Linked DNA regions of Homo sapiens: region 1 is linked to region 2. Evidence: fine-mapped expression QTL. A gene starts in region 2. The other region holds a variant in brackets. All regions are shown on one strand. Distances are between the middles of the regions.

Region 1 (8,000 bases), 74 kb before region 2:
AGAGAGCTGGAAAGAGGAGTAGCAGCAAGCCAGAAGCAACAGAAGAATTCTTTCCAGAGGGAAGAATGGACTTAAGACTCAAGAATATTCCAGCTGCCAGGCATCTCCTTATGAGACTAACAAATTCTAAGGAGAAAGAAAATCTTTTTCTAGATAAATAACAAACATCAAATCTACCATAAGGACAACTAGAAAAAGTGAAAAAAAAAAAAAAATCTGAACTACCTGGTCCATGCTACCAGAGAACTGATAGGACAATAAAGAATCTGAGAGCAGAGGCTCACTTATTCCCTTGAGGGCTTACAGTGGTTCCCAAGAGAAAGGCCAAGAGAAAGGATTAGATGGATTAGACACTAAGTGTCTAAAGACACTTAGTGCTTTAGACAGTGTCTCAGTGAGAAGTGGCAGGGATTGCTTTCTAGGGTCCGTTAGGGGAAGGATACTTGTTGAAACCCCTCTCACTTTGATCTAGAATCCAAAAGGCTAAATCTAAACCTCTAGAGTAAAGGAACCAGAAGCAGGTGTTCATAGGGACTACAGGTTCATTAAGTTTCTGAAAGTAAATGAAAATATTTTAGAGTGCTAGTGCTCCTTGGAACCTTGCAGAAGTAGTTACAAATCTTGTCTGGAGAAAGCACCATCCTAGACCTCAAATAATTTCTACAAGCAATTCTTAAAATATAGTGTTCAGCATAAAATCATGAATTCTCAGAAACATGAGGAGATAAGAAATATGAACAGAAACAATAAACATAGAAATAGATCCAAAGGGGCTGTATATATTAGAGTTAAGAGACAGACACTAAAATAACTGTTATTGACTATATGTCTTAGTTAATAGGGGCTGCTATAGCAGAATATTGTAGACTGGGTGACTTAAAAAATAGAAATTTATTGCTCACAGTTCTGGAACCTGAGAAGTGCAAGATAAAGATGCTAGGATATCTGTTGTCTGATGGGGGCCAGCTTCCTGGTTTGCAGATGGACGTCGTCTTGTTGTGTTCTCACATGGCAGAGAGCAGAGCAGAGGAAGCAAGCTCTTGTGTCTCTTCTTTTAAAGGCACTAATCCCATTCATGAAGACTCTACCCTCATGACTTAATCACCTCTGAAAGGCCCCACCCCTAATACCATCACATTGGGATATAAGATTTCAACACATAAATTTTGGGGTTTGTGTCAGAGGACAGACCTACTTAAAGAAACTTTAGGGGGACACAAACATTCAGTCATAACACTAGGTAAAGAAGAATAAGGACATTATTGAACATTTTCAGAGAACTAGAAACCATGAAAAGAACCAAATAGATATTCTAGAATTAAAAGAAAAATTTCAAGAAGCAAATTTACAAAATGAAGCCAGAGCAATAAAAATAATGGAAAAAAAAATCAGAGGAGAGTAAAAACAGCATAGTGAGAGGTCTAATGTTACATTTATTTTGTATCTTTAAGAAGGAACACAGAAAAGGGTCAGAAGCAATATTTATAGTTGAGCATTTCTCCCAAAGTAATACAACAATTCGCAGAACAAATAAAAACAAATGTACCTAGGCACATCATAATAAAACTACTGAAAGCCATACTCAGTGGGAAAATTATAAAAGCTACCAGAAAACACAACACTTAAAGTAGCAACAACTAGACCGACCGCTGACTTCATAACAGAAAAAACAGAGGCCTAGGCACAATATATTTAAAGGGCTTAGAGAAAATGACTACTTAGAGAACATTTCCTTCAAGAAGTAAGGTGGAATAAAGACATTTTCAAACCTTAAAAGCTGAAAGAATGTCAGCACCACACTTACAGTATAAACAGTGCTAAGAGATGTTCCTAAGTAGAAGGCTGATGATTCCAGATGGACGTTCACCAATAGAGAAAGCATTGAAAATTCAAAGACATAAGATTTGGGGTAAACATCTGGGTTATAGCTGCATGAATAGCAACTATAGAAAAACACACACACAAATGTGTATGCTAACAAAGGAGAGACCTGATATGGCAATCTTAATGTCAGAAAAAGTGTAATTAGAACCCAAAAGAGCAGATCGAGCTGTGAACAGTGGTTAGTTAGATCACCACAGGTCCTTTCAAAGGATGGAGATAGCCAGTAACTTACTCTGAATGAACATGACAAAGATATCTTCCCAGGTAAACTCTCCTCAAAACATGCCAAGGTATTGCTCTCCCCCACCCTTCCAAATTCATATCTCCTCCTTCCCTCTTTGTATTTTTCAGTCTTTTAATCTCTCCTTTTTTCTCCCTGTTCTTTCTTTCATTTTTGTTAGTGTCTTCCTTCATCCCATCACTCCTCCTCTCTCTGAATTTCCTGTGCATTTGTCTCACCTGTTGTGGACACAATAACATATTTTTAAATTGGAGTTAATACTTTTTTCTATTTTATTTTAAAATTGCGATAAAATGTACATAAAATTTATTATTTTAACCATTTTTAAGTATACAGTTTGGTGGCATTAAGTATAGTCGTGTGTCATTTAATGGTGGGGCTACGTTCTGTCAAATGTGTCATTAGGTGATTTCATCCTTGTGTGAACATGATAGAGTGTACTAACAGGATCCCAGATGGCACAGCTTCCTAGGCACCTAGGCTACATGTATAGCCTGTTATTCCTAGGCTACCAACCTGGACAGCTACTGTACTAAATATTATAGGCAATTGTAACACAATGGTAAGTATTTGTGTGTCTAAACATAGAAAAGGTAATGTGTTTGTTCTGGGACGTTAGGATGGCTATGACATCCCTAGGCAATAGGAATTTTTCAGCTCCATTATAATCTGTGAGACCATTGTCATATATGTGGTTTATCATTGACTGTAAATGAACAATGGCTCACTTAAGAAAAAAAAAAGAGCTTTGTTTACTTTGCCATAGAATTCTAATTTTCTTCCAGCATCCATCCATCCACCTGCCAAGACACGTGGAGCACCATATGCTCAGAGTCAGCCACAGCAGTCACAGGATGCAAGCATGGGTAGCTCTGTCTTAGATTTCGTAGACTCTGTGGCTCCTTCACTCAATTGGTTAGAGTTGGAATAGTTACCGAGGTCGGACTTGAAGGGTTGGACCTATATGAGATTTCTGGCTTTGTGTTCCACTCCATGGACATGGGAAGCCCCCGTCAGCGCAGCCTTTCACTGAAGTTATGACATTGCTGTCTTGGAGGGTGGCGGGGAGGGGGCGTGAAAAGAGATTGTTTCAAATTTAAAAAATCACTTCCCTGTGACAACTGACGATGTGATCGTCTCATCTCTTTGAATGTCATTTACTCTTTGTGCTTTCTTTGAATGTGTTTGGAACAGAAAACTAATCAGAGTCTGGTTTTAAAGGATTCATTTCTTTCCCGTGTTGATTCTGTAGCTTGCAGTGAGCTGCATACTCCATCGCTAGATCGAAAGCCAAATAGTTTTGTTGCGGTGAGTGTCACCACCCCTCCTCAGGCATTCTGGACGAAGCATGCACAGACGGAGATCATTGAGGTGGGTGCTGGTGGTCTCTCTCTGAGGGGCTGTGGGACATGCTCTAGTGGTGTCTCTTGTCCTGATGTTCAGTTACTTGTGCATCTGTAGCTGAAGCTGTATTTACGTGAGTTGTTGCTATTTTCCCATGGGTTTTCAGTACATTGATATTTTTCATCACATTTACTCATCTGGGTGGCATTTATATTGCCATATCCTTTACAGTTATTGATTAACTGTTGGCAGCTTGTTTTTGAACAATGATCCTGTAAGCTTCATTGCCTTGTAAGAGGTAAGACCTAATTCCTTCTTGTCACCTCCAATTGGCTGCTACTTTGCAAGAGTGGTGCTCATTAATCAAAGCTTAGAAGAGTATTAACTATTTACCACCCTCTTGTCCAGACATACCCCTATTTTTGTTGGTTTTTGTTTTTACAGCCTTTTGAGTTTTGTGTCACATGTTAACTTTTCCCACTAAGTTACATGATAAACATTTGTGGATAAACATTTATGGATGATCCTTTTAGATCATCAAGCACATTACATAACACTAAGTGTAGGAGTTGGTGGCATGAGATTCTGCAGAGTTTTATTTGTAAAGTGAAGAATTATCAAACTTAAACTGCATTTCTTCTTCTTCACCAGTTGTGCATTTTGGAAGCTAGCCCACCCTTTCAGTCTCTTAGAAACTTATTTCCAAGTTCACGTCAACAATTCTGCTTTCTAAGCAGTTGTCGAGTGCTACCTACACATCTAGCATAGTGCCAGGCACTGTGGATGATACAGAGCCCACCAGGGCACAGTCCCTGCCCTGAGGAATTGACCAGCTGGTGGGTGGGGAGGCAGAAATGAATATGGCTACCCGTGTGCACAGCAGAGTATGGGAAGTATTGGAGTAGGAAGGTAAGGAGAGCACCAGGAGGCTGGGATCCTATCTGGCTGTGAGAGTCAGAGCAGGCTTCCTAGGGTGGGGCTTCATGAAATTCTACTTCAGTATGTCTGGGGTAGGGCCCAAGACTGCATTTCTTACAAGCTCCCAAGTGATGCCCAGGTAGCCAGTCGGGGGACTCCACATGAAGAGCACGCCAAAGTTCTGTTGTGGCTATGCAAATGTGTGACCACAGGGAAGGATCATGCAGGTTTGGGGTCTAACTGTATCCTGGTCAGTGTGTGAAAGGCACAAGTAGGAGAGCAAGGAAAGAAAGCCTTGAAGGCCGTGGAGTTTATCAGCAGATGGTAGTGAGCCAGTGTAGGCTTCTGTGCAGGGGAGTCACCTGACCAGATGTCCTAACTTGTATAGGACAGGCATTTGGGGGAGTGAGAGTTGGAGGGAGTGGAAAGAAAGGAGCGTATGACAGAGACTTTGAAGGTGGACCTTGCAAGGGGAGTTCATGATCACTGGATGGTTGAGAACAACAGAGAAGAAGGCACCAAAGTGAATGCCCGGGCTTTTAGCCTGCTTGGAAAGGGAGTCAGAGGTGGCCTTAGCCAAGGGC[A/G]GGTGGAGGGAGAGATGAGTTGGTTGAGGCCCCAGCAGCCCACCCAGGTGGAGCTGTCCAGTCAGCTTGACCACCTGGATCTGGATCTCCAGAGAGAAAAAGGAGCCAGAGGCCCAGGGAATGGTGGCTGTGATAATTACCTGGTGCCTGAGAGAGTATGGTATTACGGGGCTTTGGAGGACATGGCCAGGCTGCCAGGAAATAGTCACCTATGATCAAAAAACTAGTAGCTGATCCTAAAAAAAGGATAGCTTTTGAAAAGTCAGGCTTTAATTATTCCAAACACAGGCTTCTAGAAATACATAATAAACCACTTAAGCCATTCATTTTCTCTCTTTCATCTGCTTATTTGTACCTCTTAAAGGAATAACTCAAAGTAGTAGGTTTACATACACATTACACTTTAAGTTATAAAACTAAGAATGCATGTGGACATCCAACTTGTTTCAGTTTTTAAAAATTCCTCCTGTTGAGTGTGAAACCCATGAAATGAGTCCTCAGGCACAGCTTGTGTAATGGGCTGATTTATTGTATGTGGATCTGTAATGGTCTATGTCAGACTTCTTTTTTCTCTTTTAAAAAGCAGAGTTTTTTTGTTTGTTTGTTTTATGTATTTATTTAAGCCGCCTTTAGCATTTGTGTTGATTCAAGGCAGTGAGAATGTTAGTTTCTCATTCTGAAAATGTTGGTGTATTTCAAAAGCAATTACATTTTAAAAATCCAACCCTGTGTTCTGATTATTTCCTTTTCTGTTCTAGGGAACCAACAATCCTATATTTCTAAGCAGTATTGCCTTCTTTCAAGACTCTCTTATCAATCAGATGACACAAGTCAAACTCTCCGTGTATGATGTCAAAGATAGATCTCAGGGAACAGTTAAGTAATGTGTTGTAGTTCGTGGGATTTTCTTCCCTTTGAAAAAATTATATAATCGTTTGAATGAGAGATGAACACAGATTGACTTCACTACTGGCTCACAAGTTAACTCATGTCTAAATGCATTTGTCTTTGCGAATTGTTAAGCTTTCCCATTGGGCTTCTGACATAAGGGTAAGAGGTGTTGTGGGAAGCAGTCAGCTGGACTCTCTGGGGCCATGGTAATTGCATCAGAAGCAAAGCAAGCGCACCAATGCTGCCTCTCTTCCTTCTCTTCCTCAGATGTATTTACTGGGCTCTGGAACGTTCATTGTCAAAGATCTGCTCCAGGACAGGCATCATAGGTTGCATTTAACACTAAGGTTGGTATTCAGTTTTATTCCCTTGAAAGGATCTGGAATCATGAGGTCCAGGGACAGATGGGGAAAGGACCCACTTCTTATACTGAGAGAGCACCCTTCCCTTCCCAGAAGCCAGTCAGCGTGGGGACACTGTGTTGTCTATTGAGGCGAAACAAATTACTTAGCCTATCAGAGAATGGAAACTTTTAGCATCCATAGGAGATATGAGCACAGCTGTACCAAGCCCTAAAGGAAGGCCTAGATACATATCTAGTAATACTAAGTGTGTTTCTCCATTATTTAGCCCCTCCCCAGTGGAATATAATCTCCCATAGAGCAGGGAGTTTTGTCTGCTTTGCTTCACTGCTATTTCCCAGACACCTAGAATGTGTCTGGTGCTCAATAAATATTTATGGAAGGAATGAGTGAATGAAAGGGAAACGCCCACTGTCTCCCAGGATGGAAAGATGAAAGACATCAGGATGTCAGTCCTTCCAAATCATTTTAGGGGCACTTCCCACCAAAACCCTGACATGGTGGTCTTTTTTCAGAAAAAGGTAAAAATTGGAGAACTGTGATCTGGGAAAGTAATCTAGAGTAGCAAGGAAAATTTGACAAACAATTAAGTCCCTGCAGTATTGAGACATTCTGAAGCTACTATAAGTAAAGACAGTATTGCAGGCATTGGCTGTCTAATCAGTGGACAGGATCAGAGCCCTGCAGCAGCCCTTAGTTTGTTTAGAGAACTTGATTCAGGAAAAAGGAACCATCTTTGGTAAAATGAGAGGGATCATGTAAGGGAAAGGGCTTTGAGAAAAATATTTAGTTACGTCATGTGTCAGAGTTAACTCTAGTTGGGTTAGAGTTAAATGTACAAAATAGACATCATTCTTTTTAAAGGAGCTAAAGGCGGCTGATGATTGAACAGATAGAGCAGGAAAGGACTTCACAGGCACGAGGACAGGGCAAGGAAATCACAAAGGAAATGGTCAGTAGATGGGACCAGACAAAAATTTAGAACCTGATTAAGTGAGACCTTGTAAATAGAAAGCCTGAAGTTCCAGGGTGTCCCCAGGTTCCCTGGATGAATCAGATGAGCCCAGGCCACCATCAGCCACCCTTCGGGATGTCAGGGTAAAGCTGACTGAGGCTGGGGTAGCATCAGCTGTGTCATATCAGGATTCAAGGGCTTCAGGAAGCCCTGGCTGGATTCCATTACTTGGAGTCCAGGCTTAGGCCTTGGGCTAATATAAGCCTCAAGGTGGGGTGGGAAGGAACAGAAAAGGGCCCAGGGCCAGAACAAGGTGTTCTGTAGTCCTCACTCTGACACGTGTCCCCCTCACCCTCTGGGCAGGGGTGAGCACAGGCACTGGCAGCAGCTCAGGAACAGCATTGGCTCCTCCTCAGGGAGGCCCCCTCTGACTTCACCAGCACGTCCACACTTCCCTGTGGTGCGTGTCCGTTCAGACACAGCCCTCCACTGTGCCCCATGGTTTCCTTGTCTGTCTCGCCTGAGAGGAGCCCTGTGTGCACAGTGAATGCTGACTGACTGGTCAGTCAGCTCGGCCCTGCTGCCCCCAGGACCCTGATGACCCAGTACGGCTAGGGCTTTGTATTTCAGCAGAAAAGAAGCACAGTTGCAGCACCACTCATTAAAGCATGTTGTGCATCACAGGTCTGCAGAGAGTGACCGTGTAGGTAACATCACCGTGATTGGCTGGCAGATGGAGGAGAAGTCAGACCAACGGCCCCCTGTGACCCGGTCTGTGGACACTGTCAATGGGAGGGTGAGTTACACCACTTTCCTCCTCT
Region 2 (15,921 bases):
GACGCTAGAGTTCTTTGTAATTCTTCAGTGCCAAAAATAATAAAGTTGGAAACTTGGATTCCTGTTTGACTCTACTGTATTAAGTGATCAGAATAAAATTACTGTAAGGCTAATCTTCAACCACTTCATGGTTTTCATTCTTGCTTTCTATAGTGAACATCTGTTGTTTCCACTTGCTCTAAACCCCTTTCCTTTTGGGATTCAGCCCACTACTCATCCATGTGATTCTGACAGGAGTTAGCAATGACAGTGCAGATAGATAGCCCAGGCCTGGCCAAGATCACAGGCCCCCATCCCCTCTTCCACAGGGACTGGTCCAATGCAAGGGCAGGTGATCCTGGGAAGACCAGAGTCCTTTTATAGATTTGATTTGTGGACCCTGAAAAAGGAAGTTCTCTCTCTCCCTTTTGAATCATGGATAATAAGGATGTGGACTTGGAGCTGACACTGGCCCATTATGTAGAGCGGGCCAGACTGAAAATGTAACCAGGAAACAAAAACAGTCCGAAGATGATGGTAAAGAGCCTGGGCAACACAATCTGGGGCCTAGCATCAGCTATGCCTGTGGACGCTATTAAAGTGCTGAGGTTATTACTTCAGTGAATCAGAGCACAAATGAAGTATTTCTTCTCTAAGGAATCAAACACAATTCATTTTAGAACTAGACAGGAAAAGACTGAACTAAAGAAAAAGTTTTATCCTAAACTTTCCCAACAGACACCTTCTGGATAGGCTGCATGTTATCGACTGTGTCAGTCAAATCAGTGGCCTGTACTAATTGGGTAATTCAATTGAAGAGTCAAGTTTGCAAATAACAGTCTTTCCATTTTCTGTGCTTTAGAACAATTCTCAAAACACATTTATTATGCTCCCAACCCATACCTGTTCAATTAGGTTTTTCTTCTAAAAATAACTTGGATCAAGAGAATCATTTACTTTATACATATTCGAAAACAACTCATCCACTTTCTTCAGTGTTCCACGGAGGGGAAATCTGGTCCAACCAAACAGATGTAGTAAAAAGTATGTTTCCTGTTTTGGCTTCTTTGTGTTAATGACCAGGGAAAATATTTGTTGTTTTCCATGTTGGCTTCAACATAATGCATCAATATCCTTTTCTTCCTCTGAATCTTGCCCTGTTATCCAACTGAAAATAAATATACAATTAAATCAAATTTGGTACAATGTAATTAATTAAACACCCCTTACTTTGGTAAGGGTATCACCGCATGAGAGAAATAAACCAGTTATTAGCAAAATCAAAAAGGTGATGACATCAGAACTACCAAGAAAAACCACAGTAACAAAGATGGCATTGGCAGGGCACAGTGGCTCATGCCTGTAATCCCAGCACTTTGGGATGATGAGGTGGGCGGATCACAAGGTCAAGAGTTTGAGAGCAGCCTGGCCAACGTGGTGAAACCCCATCTCTACTAAAAAACACAAAAATTAGCTGGGTGTGGTGGCATGCATCTGTAATCCCAGCTACTCAGGAGGCTGAGGCGGGAGAATTGCTCGAACCTGGGAGGTGGAGGTTGCAGTGAGCCAAGATCGCACCACTGCACTCCAGCCTGGGCAATAAATAAATAAATAAATAAATAAATAAATAAGAAAGATGGCATTAAAAATAGAAGTTCCGCTTAAGGGCAATCAAGAATCCAAATTACATTTAACTGTTTATTTGGACTATACTCAATATACATTCTTCTTCTAAAAAACTTAACTTTCTAGGTTTAGGTTAATATTCAAATATATTTGAAATCTTTAAATTGCAACTGATGAGCCCTGAAAAATGTTAAGTAACACATTACTTTGGGATTAAAAATCCTTCAGGTGAATTACCACCTCACAAACTGGCAGCACGTTCTTTGACTGAAGCCTCACAGTGCAGTCATTTCTTAAGGGTAGTAGGTAGAGCAGAGGGTTCTCAAGTCAGTTTGTAAGGCAAACTTGCATAGTCAATGTCACTCCCCAAAAATTCTATATTGGGGGTCCCTAACCTCCAGGCCATAGACCTGTACCAGTCCATGGCCTGGCAGGAAGCAGGCCACACAGGTGGTCAGCAGCAGGAGAGGGAGTGTTAGGGCCTGAGCTCCACCTCCTGTCAGATCAGGGGCATTACATTCAGATCAGCAGCATTAGAGTCTCAGGAGCATGAACCCTACTGTGAACTGCACATTCAAGGGATCTAGGTGGTACGTTCCTTATGAGAATCTAATGCCTGATGACCTGAAGTGGAACAGTTTCATCCCAAAACCATCCCCTGCCCCCTTCCCCGTCCGTGGAAAGATTGTCTTCTTCCATGGAATTGGTCCCTGGTGCCAAAAATGTTGCAGACCACTATTCTATAGGAAGGAATTATTTTAGAGACAGACCCTGCCAGTTAGTCCAACAAAGTGTGGACAGACAGCCATTTATTCACTGAGCACTAGGTAAAGTAGCTAAAGCCATACTTTTAAAAAAAAATTTTAAAACACAGGAATCAGGATGGTGAACTGCTCATACTATGAGAGAACAGCAGATTCAAACTTCCCATCTCACCTTCAATAAGATGCACACTCACTTTAATAGCATACAAAATTACCCACACAATTTAAATGTTTATATTTCTGGGTTTTTTGCCAAGCATGTATAACAAGTTGCATTAACAGCGATATGACTCTACTCATTTTGGAGGACTAACAGTAAAACATGGTCTTGGAGAAAGATTATAAAAAGGTCCCTAAGCTGGTCGGGTGTTAATGGCTCATGCCTGTAATCCCAGCACTCTGGGAGGGAGAGGTGGGTGGATCAGGAGTTTGAGACCAGCCTGGCCAACATGGCGAAACCCCATCTCTACTAAAAATATAAAACTTAGCTGGGCATGGTGGCAGCTGCCTGTAGTCCCAGCTACTCGGGAGGCTGAAGCACGAGAATCACTTGAACCCAGGACGCAGAGGTTGCAGCGAGCCAAGATCACACTACTGCACTCCAGCCCGGGCAACAGAGCGAGACTCCATCTCAAAAAAAAAAAAAAAAAGGGTCCCTAAGGTGCTCTTCTCAGTGTCAAAGTATATGTGAAACTCTGCCTTGTACTGATATTTAGAAATGGTAAGATCATTTTACTTTTTATGTAAGATTGTTAAAAATTTCTGCTGAAAGTAGATAAATTGTAAAAATAAAAAAAAATCTGACTTCGTTCTTTGGAGATCGAAGACTGAGCTTTAGGTAGAGAATTTCAGAGGGTTTACTGCACACGCTTTGAAATTCTTGACAAAGTTAAAGGTTTGCATTTTACATGGGTAACAAATCTATGTGAGAGAAGGCAAGAAAATCCTCCTCTATTCACACTGAATGACAGGAAAAGATGTCACTTAAGAAAGTAAACAGAGCAGGGCCAAATTTAATCTAACTTTACACCCTCCCTGGATCTGATTAGCTGGCAAACATGCTCCAAGTTCTTTGTTTACAACCACTTGCAGGTCGTAAGTATCAGTACCCTCCATTTCTTTTGTTAACAAAAAGGAAGGGATTTGCAGTGTAGTTCCTAAGCAAACAAAAGCATGCTCAAGGCCAGGTGTGGTGGCTCACTCCTGTAATCCCAGCACTTTGGGAAGCCGAGGCAGGCAGATCACCTGAGGTCAGGAGTTCAAGACCAGCCTGGCCAACATGGTGAAATCCCATCTCTACTAAAAAAATACAAAAATTAGCTGGGCACAGTGGCAGGCGCCTGTAATCCCAGCTACTCAGGAGGCTGAGGCAGGAGAATCTCTTGAACCCAGGAGGCAGAGGTTGCAGTGATCTGAGATTGCGCCACTGCACTCCAGCCTGGTGACAAAGTGAGACTCCGTCTCAAACAAAAAACAAAAAACAAAAAAAAAACATCCTCAAGTCCAAGTGCTTTCTTCCTTTAATGGGATGCTCATATTTTTGGTTTTATACATTTCTCCAAGAAAAGGGTCTCAGTTTCCATTCCAAAGATCTCCATACATCTTCCAAATCAAAGAATGTTAGAATGAACCCCAGAGATTTGTAATCTCTTTTTAGGCCCTATTTCTACAATCCATCCCTCCAAAATTCAAACACAGATACTGACATTTTCTCTTAGTCACATAAGGCACAAATGTATACACCTTGGAGCTCCACATTATATGTTTGTATACAATTGCCAACTGATCTGAACTCGAGTGGCCAACATCAACTTTTACCCGTATATACCTGCCGAGACTTCATTCTCACACTTTCAGAAATGCATGAAGTTCAGCAGCTGTAGTTAGCACGGTGACAGAAGAACATAACAATGAGCTGTGGGTTTTTATGAACGCTACCTAACGTTAACTCACTGGAGGAAGAAATATTATCTATGTAATTTTTTCCAAACCATATCACTGCAACTTACCTATAACTATTAAGTCATTCATATATTTAACCTCCCTATAGCTAATTTTTAGCATAGGCTTTTAAAAATCTTTAACCACTTACCACTGATCTTTTACACTCAAAAAATGCGTACTTCAAAGAGTTGCAGTATCCTTCCTTCAAACACTGCCGAGGTGATTTTCCTTCCTATGACAGACACATAAAACAATATAAACACCTTGGAAATTTTCTCACAAAGTACAAAATAATTGTCCTTCTGAAAATAGTCCTTTTTAAAAGTGTTAAAGGAGGAAAATAGAAAGTTATGTAGGAAATAGTTCTTAATTCATTTGGGCTATTGGTGCCTAAAGAATGAAAAAAAAATTGTAAAGTAACTTGGGAACTTTAAGGACACTGTTGAATTCTTGAAAACACTGGTTTCTATTGGATACTTTTCCTTAAACTGTTTATATAAAAATCTAGAAAGGGTTATCTTCATTTCCTTATGGGTGAAATGTGTGAACTGGGTACCCTAAAATCAGAATATTTTTAGTGTTGGCACGAAACACTTCACAAAGATATTAACAAGGCAGGCTGGAATACTACTTAAATAGAAACATGTGGCCCATTCATGCACCAGAAAAAATATAACCCAAAGCTCATCTGCTCTGCATAATCAGGGATTTTCCCTCAAGCAGATTTTGACTCTACAGCCGCATCACTGCAGCCACTCCCCAGAACCTTTATGTTGCAAGTGCCAGGCACGCTCTGCCAGTTTTTCCTATGAAAAGCTACAGGGTACTATGTCTGTGGTATTCCTGTTCCCCAGGAGTCTTGGCCACCTTCCAGTCTGTATGTCTGCCTGGGTCCTAGATATCAAATGTCATCTACCTCAGTGACTCTCAAAAGTGGATAAGAGTAGCAGGTTTCCTTCCTCTCCAAACTCTGCAATTCTGCTGGTGGGATGTGTTGCCCACATGAACGACGTGGAGGCAGACAAAAGAAGACTAACCATATAAAAGGTTATAACTATAGTTTATAAGCTGATGCCTCTTCAAACTGTATCTAAGATGCTACCTTTTTCAAAAGCTTTCAACCTATATTGTCAACTGCCTGGGGTAAAGATCCATCTAGATACACTAAAGCTAAGAGACAGTCATTCGTTATCCACTCCACCCCAAATAACAGACTGCTAGCTGTCTGCTCTTCCTTTTTATCCAGCATATGGCTGGGTGAGATCTCCTAGACGCCCTTGCATCTAGCTGTGGTCCTGTGACTAAGTTCTAGCCACTGGAATGTGTGGGAAACAGGTGTAGAACTTCTGGGTTGGTCCTTAAAGAGGCTTGCCCCTTTCCTCACTTCACTCCATAAGGTTGCCGGGCCTGATGATGTGGAAGCAAACCAGTCTTGGACCATGAATATGAGAGTAACACCCTACTTGCTATATTTTCCTATTTTCACAGCACAGAGTCACAAGATCAACAGTGTCTGCGTTCATGGAAGACTGAGGGAAATGACTAGGCCCTGATTATAGGCACAAGGACAAAAGAGAAAGTTCTCTATCTCGTTTAAGCCACTATTATTCTGGGTCTCTGTAACATGCACTTGAATCTATATTCTAACTAATACACTCCCAAGCTTTTTTGCCTTCTGAGGTCAAGATCAGTCAGTGCTCTCAAACATGGCTGTGCCCAAAACCAACCTAGGAAAGAAACTTTTAACTTATTGGGGGTAGGGTGAGGGCAGCAGTGGAATCTGTACTTTTAAAAAGCCACACCACTTCTAGGTGATTCTGATGAAGAGTCAGTGGATCTGGAAGCTGTTAGTGGAGACGAAGATACCCTATGATGAGTGAAGTTCCTCTGGCAGAGTTTCATTGTCCTGATCATCCAGGAGTCATTAAATCCTAAGAAGTCTCTTCAAGAGATGCCTTTTGAATCTGCTTTTTCCCTGCTTTCCTCCAGCCCCACTGGAATTTACATCCTTACCATTACCCTGAGTTTCTCTGAGGCCCTCTAACTCCTTGACAGTCTCCCAAAGCAGCACCTAGAACTAAATACATGTTTATGTTGAATTCCTCCCTAGAGCGAGGTGCTGCAGGTTTCAGGTGGGTTAAAGACTGGCAAGAAGAGACTACAGCACCAACCTGCCATAGGATCAGATTAACCTTTTTATTCAAGAACTTAAGAAATCAAAAATTTCCATCATAATTAAGGTTGCCACACAGAGCAAGCACAGACCTCAGCAGAGCTTTCCTTGGTCTTTCAGAGTCCCCAGTGAGGAGCAGTGGGCAGTAGCTGCCAACAGATTGTAGGAGATTGTTCTGGACCTGCAAACCTCCTCACTATTGCCCTTTTACAATCCAGCTGAAGTCAGCATTCAGAATGAATTTAACACAAACTGTATACGAACTTCCATCTAAAGAACTGCTTATAAGCATCACGTTTTCTGGCTGACCAAACTGAGCACTGGTAAGGCCACATATTCAATGGCGGGAAAAGCAAAGTCTGTACCAGCTGTCCCAACCATAATCTCTGCCTACAGCATTCTAGCCAAACAGCTCCGCTTTCTATACTGGAGAGACCATGTTCCATTCATCAGTATTTGTTCCCTGAACTGGAGCCTGGCGCTCCGTACATGTTTGCTGTATCAACCGCTGCAGAAAGCCAGCTTGGAATTCTCTGTGCTGCTGCTATTGTCCTCCACTTGGAGTTTCTTTCCTCAGTCCTACTCAGTGTACTTTCTTCCCTTGACTACTCATCAACATGGCCTTCCGATGCTGAACGTCTGGATAAAATCCAGTCTCCTCACTCTGACACACATACAGGCCTTCACACCTGGCTGCAACCTTCCCCTCAGGCCTTCTGTCGCATTCCCCTATGGCAGGACACTAGCTCCTCTGCGCCCTCCCACATCTCCCTGCCTCTGCACTTGCTGTTCTTTCAGATTTTCCCCACAACCACAACAGTTCCCACTCCTTTACTTGATAAACTACTACTCAACTTTTAAGACTCAGCTCAAATGTCATCTCAGAAGATTCCAAATTCTGAAGCAAAATCAGACGCTCTCCCTTGGGCTAACGCATTTTTCTCCTCAAGATCTAGTCATTAAACACATGTTTAATAAATGCTTACAGTCTTATGGCAGGAATTTAGACCCTTAGATGTCTATTTCTCCCATGACACCAAGCTTACATGGGTAGTGACTGTTACTGATTCATCTTCGTTATCACCAGTGTCAGGTACCATGCCTGCCACTTAAGAGGCATTTACCAGGAGCTGGCTGAACGGCAGCACCAGTGAGTAAGGGGCAGAAGGGACACAGCCCTGGACAGGGGAGCCTGAAAACAACGGTACTTCAGTTTCCTCATTTATATAAGGAAGTTGGGCGAGATAATCTCTTAAATTTATAATAACTCAAGTTTTACTAGACATTGGGAGGCGAGAATGGCTGACTGCTAAAATCAGTGAACCAAACAAATTGTGACTCGGTAGAAACACTGGTACAGTCTTACAGTGGATGTCCATTTGGGGGTAATCTTTTCTCTGAAATAACAGCAACTTTCTGAAACTACATCCCCCAATGCAAAGACAATTGCACACAATTGAATGCCCTCTCGTCGGGCCTCTGCAATTGGAAAAGGCACTTGTGCTTTACTTGAGCTCTAATCCAGAACTCAGGTCCACTGTGAACCTCACTACATGTTTCAGTGCATTCCAAGAGGGTGCTGAGGAGACCTGTGTCTGTAGCCGGGGAGTGAAGGAAGAGTGTAGGGGAAGCAAGATACGAAATCGTGAAAATATGGAGTTGCCTTATTTTTACAACTTAACATCCAAGAATGCAGAGAACTGTAACTCAGAAACAAATTCACATCAACACAAGTCAAACTGAGCACACATTGTCACAACTGAACAGGCAGGAGACACTACTGGCCAGGGCAGTGTACCAGGTTTACGCAACTCTCTGGAATCATTAATTCTACAGATTATCATTTCTAGGCAGGCAAGAAACCTGGCTTATTCTCCTTTATGTCTCCAAAGCCTAGTAGAGTGCTAGCATTCAATAAAGGCTTCGTGAACTGAAATGGGTTAACCTTTACAAAAACCCGACAGGGTGCGTTTATCGTTATCTCCGATTTAACCCCACAGGGAACTGGGGCTCCGACAGCTCAGTGGATCTGCGCACGTTCAGTGAGCCCGAGCTGTGACCTACGCCCGGGATGGTTAACTCCAACCGCCGCCGCGGGCGACCCGCTGCCCTCCGCCGAGCCAGGCCTGCCTGGGACAGGGGTCGTCACCACCGGGAGCGCCCGGCCGCGCTACCTGGACCACACAGTCCGACTGCAGCAGACACGCGCCCAGGTCCTCCTTCAGGCCCGCGCACGCGCCGCCCTGCGGCTTGTCCTCATAATACTTAGGCATGACGGCGCTTCCCCTCCGATGCGGACGCGACTTTCTCCCACCGCAACACTTGCAACCGGGTCGGGAGCGAGCGAGGCCCCAGTCTCAGGGGACCGGAAGCCAGCGGCAACAACTTCCGGCGGGCCGCGGCGGTAGGGCCGAGGACTACGGGGGCCGAGAGGTGGCGCGTCCGCGGCGGAAGTCGGTTCCCGTGACGCGGCGCGCCCCAAGGGCCGGCTCCGTTGAGGGAAGGGAAGCCCGCCCGGTGGCGGCTGGGGTCGGCTGCTGGGAGGAGGTGGTGGGCTGGTTCGGACGTGGGTCGAGGCTGTAGCAGGACTCCAGGTGAGGCCTGAGGACCACTCTGCCCTCCCGCGGCCCGGGCTCGCGCCGGGGGCCATTTAATCCCGACAGCTTGCGGCCTGACGTCGCTGCGGCCTGGCAGTGACCATGTCGGCGTCCGGCCCCTCGGCCGGCGATAGAGTTGCGGCTAAAATGAAAGGACGCCCAGTTACATTTGCATCGTAGATAAAGAAAGAGCATTTAGTATAAGCATGTCCGAAATGTTGCGTGGGATGTAGGCATACTAAAACCTTATTCGTGGCCTGTCTGAAATCCAAATGGAGCTGGGTATTCTGTGTTTTTATTTGCTAAATCTGGCAGCCGTACCCGCGGCCCCGGGCAGGGAGGGAGCAGCTGGGCTCGGCCAGACCCTGCCGGCGTCTGGGGGGCCTGCGAAGTGGAGGGGAGACGGGCAGCCGGGCAGTGGCCGGCGTTCCCCGGAGCTCGGACCGGTTGGATTGGACTCCGACGCTACCGCTCCCTCTGCTGAACTATTCCGGATGTAAAACACTAGGGATCGGAGTTTTTCTTGGTTTTTTAATCTCATTCTAGTGACCGAGAAGCTTGCTGGCAGTGCGCTGATGGATCTGTGTGAATAGGCCATTTATTTGACCTCTTCAGTAACACTGTTCTAACCGGCTGAAACTGCTTTCTTAGGCATTTTCTTAAAAGCTTGGTGGTTAAGAGCACGGAATTTCGAGTCAGATTTCCAATCTTGGCTCTATCACTATCCTCGGAGTCATGGGGCAGTCACATCATCCCTGTCTCTGTAATGGTAGCTGCCCCTGGATAAGTGTTATTAGGTGATTCAGAAGGGTGGGCTGTTGCCCTTGCCTGAGGTTGCAGTCTGCGGTTCCCAAGCCCCAAGACCCGCCTCAGAACTAACTGCATTTGCTTTTGACTCCTGGCCTTTCTCTAGGGTTGGGAAGAACATGGAAAGTGACCTCCCTGCCAAATAACTCAGAAGAGGAGTGTCGGTAGCCAAATGTTTCTTCAGAATACGTGTAAAAGAAATGTTTTTCTTCCATCTAGGAAGATGTTACCGAGTACTTCAGTGAATTCCTTAGTGCAGGGGAACGGAGTCTTGAATTCCAGGGATGCGGCAAGACACACAGCCGGAGCGAAACGCTACAAATATCTGAGAAGGCTTTTCCGCTTTCGGCAAATGGACTTTGAATTTGCTGCCTGGCAGATGCTCTACCTGTTCACATCCCCACAGAGAGTTTACAGAAATTTTCATTATCGAAAACAGACGAAGGACCAGTGGGCCAGAGATGACCCTGCTTTCTTGGTCCTGTTAAGTATCTGGCTCTGTGGTAAGTGTGTTTATCTGAGATAGAATTGAACGCTGAGTGTTTCTGATTAGATTTTTTGTTATAAATGTGTTGTGGGTCAGAATCTGGAAATATTGGAAACTATTTCTCCTTTTTACTGAAGCCTCAAAAAATCTCACAGGAAAGAAAGTTGTAGTCTTGGTTCTACAGGTCCCAAGCAGATGCCAGAGTAAACTGTTACCCTAGGACATTGAAAAGCAGGGGACAAGATTCACTCCATATCTTTTTAAGTACTTGAATCGGTACCCAAATGTCAGCTGACTGTGAATAGGAATATGAAACTGGAAATTGCATTTCACAGGCAAATCCACAGTGAGAATTGTAAAGGTATTGATGGGAACCTGAGAAACTGAAGTTCTCCAATTCCATAATGCAAGGGTCTCATTTACCTGTAGGGTGTTGAAGTGGGTAAGATATTGAAGTTTATAGGGTGTTTTGCACCTTAACTGGACTTAAACTATGTTAGTGCCTTCTCTACACTGGCGTTCTAAATACTGAGGCCACCGTGGTGAATCAGCCTGGCAAGGGCCCACCTCAGGAAACTTCAACTCTCTCAGTGGCCACGCTGTGTCCCAAGGTAGTGTTCACACATCTTGGGAGTTTTGTTTAAAGACCTGTCTCTCCCACTAGCCTGGGCATCTGGAGGGCAAGGGATGTGTCCTGTATTTCCAGAACCTAGCAGAGTCCCTAAATGAATCTTGTGAATCTTTCTTTCAGTGTCCACTATAGGATTTGGCTTTGTGCTGGACATGGGATTCTTTGAGACAATAAAGCTTCTCCTTTGGGTTGTACTCATAGATTGTGTAGGCGTTGGTCTTCTGATAGCAACTTTAATGTGGTAAGTACCATAACTTTGGTTTTTCAGATACTGCTGTAGCATCTCCATTTGTTTGCTTCAGAGGTACAATAGCAGCAGATGGAAATTGAAACCCAGGTAGAGTTACTAAATGATCAATTTTGACTGCCAAGATTATTACAATTTTCCCTCCTGTGTTGCCACCTATATCAGAAAATACTATAAAGGCTGGTTTATAATATTGTCAAATGTAGCAAATAATTGAAATAATTATGTTTTGAACCCAAAATATCTGAGATCGGTCTCAATTTAGAAAGTTTAGTTTGCCAAAGTTAAGGACATGCCTGTGACACAGCCTTAGGAGGTCCTGATGACATGTGCCCAAGGTGGTCGGGGCACAGCTTGCTCTTATACATTTTAGGGAGACTTGAGACATCAGTCAATATGTGTAAAATGTACATTGTTTTAATCCAGAAAGTGGGGAAAGGCAGGTTACAGTTAGATAAGAGACAAATGGTTGCATTCTTTTGAGTCTTTGATCTGCCTTTCACTGAATACACAATTTACTTGTGAGAGGCAGGTACAGGAATAGTCATTTATGCCTTAATCTGGCTCAGTGAGTCTGCATTTTTACATAAACAATGGGGCAGAGGAAGCAATCAGATAAACACTTGTCTCAGGTGAGTAGAAGGAGGACTTTCTGTCCCACACCTGTAAAGATAAGCTATCTTAGGAATAAAATAGGAGGCAAGTTTGCCTGACACAGTTACCAGCTTGACTTTTCCCTTTGGCTTAGTGATTTTGGGGTCCCGAGATTTATTTTCTGCATACTAACAAAATGCCTGGTTTTGCAAAAATATTACAGATTTAGCCAGTTCTGCTTAAGTTGTCTGGATGATAGCATGGTTTTCTGCATTTGTCAATAGAGACCACTTCTTGATATTCATTGTGTTTAAATCCATTTAGATCTAAAGGGTTATTTTGTGGAGTCTTACTTTGAATCTTTGCATTAAATGAAGTATACTTGAAAAAGAAGGATTTTTTTTTTAAACTTCTCATGCCTTCCTACTGAGAATAAAATTCTCTCTCTTTCTCTCATACACACACACCCTCCGCCCCCCCCGCCCCCCCACCGCCACACACACACACGGGCTTTATCAGAAGGGTTCTCAGTCTGACTTTGGTTGATTTAGCAACAGCAGTGTACTGAGGATAAATCTGGTGTTTGGTAAAGTCCTCCTGTGTGGTTGGCATGCTGGATGAAGGGCAGGGGATGTGGCTAGCGATCTCAGTAGAGGACCAGTGGTTGGGTAGACATGGTGGTCATTGTGGAGAACATTTTAGTTGCAGAGAGACCTGGGTTCAAATGCCAACTTAGTTATCTGTGAAACTCTTAGTCCCAGTCTCTTCTTTTACAAAATCTAGTTAATTACCTATTCTGTCCAATTTTTGAGATAATTATGTTATGAAAATTACCTGACACAGTTAAGTGTTCAATATTTGGTAGTTACTAATATTTTAAGCAAAACTCTGCAACTATAACTTCTGATACCAGCCTTTTTTTTTTTTTCTTTGAGACGAAGTCCCACTCTGTCACCCAGGCTGGAGTGCAATGGTGTGATCTCAGCTCACTGCAACCTCCGCCTCCCGGGTTCAAGCGAATCTCCTGCCTCAGCCTTCTGAGTAGCTGGGATTACAGGCACACACCACCACACTTGGCTAATTTTCATACTTTTAGTAGAGACAGGGTTTTGCCATTTGGCCAGGCTGGTCTCAAACTCCTGACCTCAGGTGATCCTCCCGCCTCAGCCTCCCAAAGTGCTGGGATTACAGGCGTGAGCCACCGCGCCCAGCCAATACCACCCTTTTACAGGCATAGTTCAGATATGCTAGTTCCATTCCAGATACTGCAGTAAAGCAAATATCACAATAAACTGAGTCACACAGATGTGTTGGTTCCCAGTGCATATTAAAATCATATTTACACTGTACTGTAGTCTTTTAAGTGTACAATAGCACTATGGCTCTAAAAAACAATGTACAGACTAATTTAAAATGCTTTATTGCTTAAAAATGCTGACACAGAGACATGAAGTGGGCATATGCTGCTGGAAAAATGGCACAGGCAGACTTGCTGGACACAGTTGCCACAAACCTTCAATACGTAAAAATTTAAAAACTACAGTTTCTGTGAAGCGCAGTACAGTGCAGTGTGGTAAAATGACATATGCCTGTATTTTCCTTTGTAACTTCTGACTAGTACAGCAGAGCTTTTGTATGTGCTAGTTAGCCAATAAATGCTGTCCACTGTTAATATAAAATTCTAAAATCTGGCCTAGAATTAATACTAATGTAAGTCACGTATTCATTACCAAGAAATTCATGAAAAACAAATGGTGTGTTTTAAAATTTCAATAAATAAGACTTTCAAAGGAATAGTTTCATTCATAACAAGCATTCTGCCCTGAATGCAGTAATTCTGGAGGCCACTGTCTTAGTCTGTTCTCAATGCTGCTATAAAGAAATATCTGAGACTGGGTAATTTATAAAGGAAAAAGGTTTAATTGACTCACAGTTCTGCATTGCTAGGTAGGCCTCAGGAAACTTATAATCATGGCAGAAGGCAAAGGAGAAGCAGGCACCTTCCTCACAGGGTGGCGGGATGGAGTGAGTACAAGTGGGGGAAATGCCAAATGCTTATAAAACCATCAGATCTTGTGAGACTCACTGACTATCACGAGAACAGCATGGGGGAAATTACGTCCATCTGGCCCCACCCTTGACACGTGGGGATTCTGGGGATTGCTGTTCAAGATGAGATTTTGGGGACACAGCCAAACAATATCAGGCACAGAAGGGGACCAAATCAGCCTGGAGTTTAGCACATTTCATGTGAGTCTGTATCATAGTTTGAATTAAATAGAAAGGGATTCAGTGTATTTTTGAGAACCTATGTTGTGTGAGGAACTAGAAAGAGAAATGACTACATGTAATGATGACCATCACAGAGGAGCTACAGAAGCCAGCATAAGGTGGTGGTTTGTGGAGATGGGGAATAGTTGACTCCTGGTGCTGGGAATTGCAAGTGCAATGGCATAGAGGTGTGAACAGCACACTAGGTCTGGGAGCATAGGGTGACACCGAGTCACTGGGGAAGAGATGTGACTAGAGAAATTGGCCTTCATGCCATTCAGGAAAAAAATTGGACTTTATCTCATAGACTGCATGTGTGGGTTGGGGGCAAAAGGAGGTGGGGAGCTTTGAGGCTTTAAAGTAAGGAAATAATGTCAAACTCACACTATCTTTTCCATGGCAGTGGAGGAGGCAAAAGTTGGAGTAGTGAGTGGGCAAGGCTGGATACACTTGCAGAGGTCTGCGTAGGAGTAGAGGAGGCCCAGATAGTATGGTGGTGATAGGAATAGAGAGGAGAGATGGATTCGAGAGCTTCCTGAGATAACAAGGTATGAGGGGGGATCAGGAAGAGGGAGTGGGTGGGAGGCTCCTTTGGGATGACCTGTAAGATTTTGGCTTAGATGACTGAGGAAGCAGCAGATGCAGATGAAGCAGCCCTTGCTGGCCTGTTGAGTTCAGGGAGCTTCCTGAAGAGTGAAAAGAAGGTCAGTAGACACTGAGGTTGATGACTCTAGACCTAGAGGCAAGAGTCTGGGCCATGATGAGCCTCTGACTGGCGTTAATATGGAGCTGGGAGGTGAAAACCACAGTGCCTTGGAGTGCTCTCGGAAGGCACATCTGTCTTTCAGAGGAAAGACTCTCACTGAGGCCAGAAGCTTGAAAAGCGCCCATTTGGGATAAGCGGGAGAATAGGGGCAGCAGAGAACGTCTACAGAAAGGGCGCTCTTGGGGAGCGAGCTACATACTGATTCCATAAAATTTGAATGGCACACATTCTTGGCTAAAAAGGAAACTGTCTTGGTAAGCTCTAGTTTGTTCAGTATTGTTTTGGCATTTTCAGATAACGAAATGCAGGGACTGTTAACATTAGTATTGTACCTCTGTTTATTTTCCATTTTTATCCCCAGTGACGGAATAGCGTATTCTTAATTGTACCCTTGAGATGAAATGAAATAATACATTAAAAAATACATTGAATTTCCAATATATGTTTATAATACAAGTTTTGTTCTTTGAAGATCTTACTTTTCTGTTACTTGGATATTTTACTTTTTATTCATCATTGAACTGAAAAACTAGTAGGCCATGTTGTAGAACAGTGACATACACTTGAATAATTGTTCTTATGGCTGGATGCGTCACTCTTCCTAACTGCTTCTTACTATTTCATCCTCCTTTTAATAGGGGGTTGACCCAGGTCTTGGGCCTTGGGCCTGTTCATTATCCACATTCATTTTTTTGGTGACATCATTCAGGCCCGTGGCTTTAAATATTAATATCATCTACACACTGATGAGTTTATATTTCCAGTTTGGACTTGTCTTCTAAACTCTAGACATTGTATACAACTTCTTACTCCATACTAGTTGGCATCTTCAACATAACAGGTCCAAATTCAAACTTCCGCACACTCCTTCCCACCTCAAAACCACTCTTCCCACAGCCAGCCCCACCTCAATTAAAGGCAGCTCCATCTTCCATTTGTTCAAGGCAGAAATCTCTCAGTCATCCTTGAGTATTTTTTTCTCATACTCCAATCCAATAATGTCAGGAGCTCTACCTTCAGAGTATCGTGTGTGCC

Direction of the effects. Positions count from the first base shown, and alleles are read on the strand shown. Sizes are in standard deviations (SD) of each study's normalised expression.
In carriers of allele G in region 1, the expression in anterior cingulate cortex of the gene that starts at base 8,866 in region 2 tends to be higher than with A alone (small effect, 0.33 SD a copy in GTEx).

The links. PIP is the estimated chance that this variant, and not a neighbour inherited with it, causes the effect.
Region 1: its variant is the best candidate, but not a certain one, in a credible set for the expression of COA5 in anterior cingulate cortex (GTEx, PIP 0.51).

The regions. Positions count from the first base shown.
Region 1 is chr2:98,530,000-98,537,999 of GRCh38, forward strand. It overlaps INPP4A (inositol polyphosphate-4-phosphatase type I A), which reads left to right. Exons shown (of 25, transcript NM_001134225.2): 5 at 3,378-3,496; 6 at 5,730-5,846; 7 at 6,130-6,209; 8 at 7,864-7,975. Among named protein-coding and RNA genes, the nearest start is that of COA5, 75 kb to the right of the region's middle. The variant A/G (reference allele first, on the strand shown) is at 4,972.
Region 2 is chr2:98,599,647-98,615,567 of GRCh38, forward strand. COA5 (cytochrome c oxidase assembly factor 5) reads right to left here and starts at 8,866. Exons shown (of 3, transcript NM_001008215.3): 1 at 8,661-8,866; 2 at 4,462-4,545; 3 at 1-1,147. The coding sequence starts at 8,759. The coding sequence ends at 1,106. UNC50 (unc-50 inner nuclear membrane RNA binding protein) reads left to right here and starts at 8,943. Exons shown (of 6, transcript NM_014044.7): 1 at 8,943-9,080; 2 at 10,110-10,393; 3 at 11,129-11,249. The coding sequence starts at 10,114. RefSeq lists enhancers at 1,838-2,007, 8,018-9,007 and a silencer at 9,071-9,170.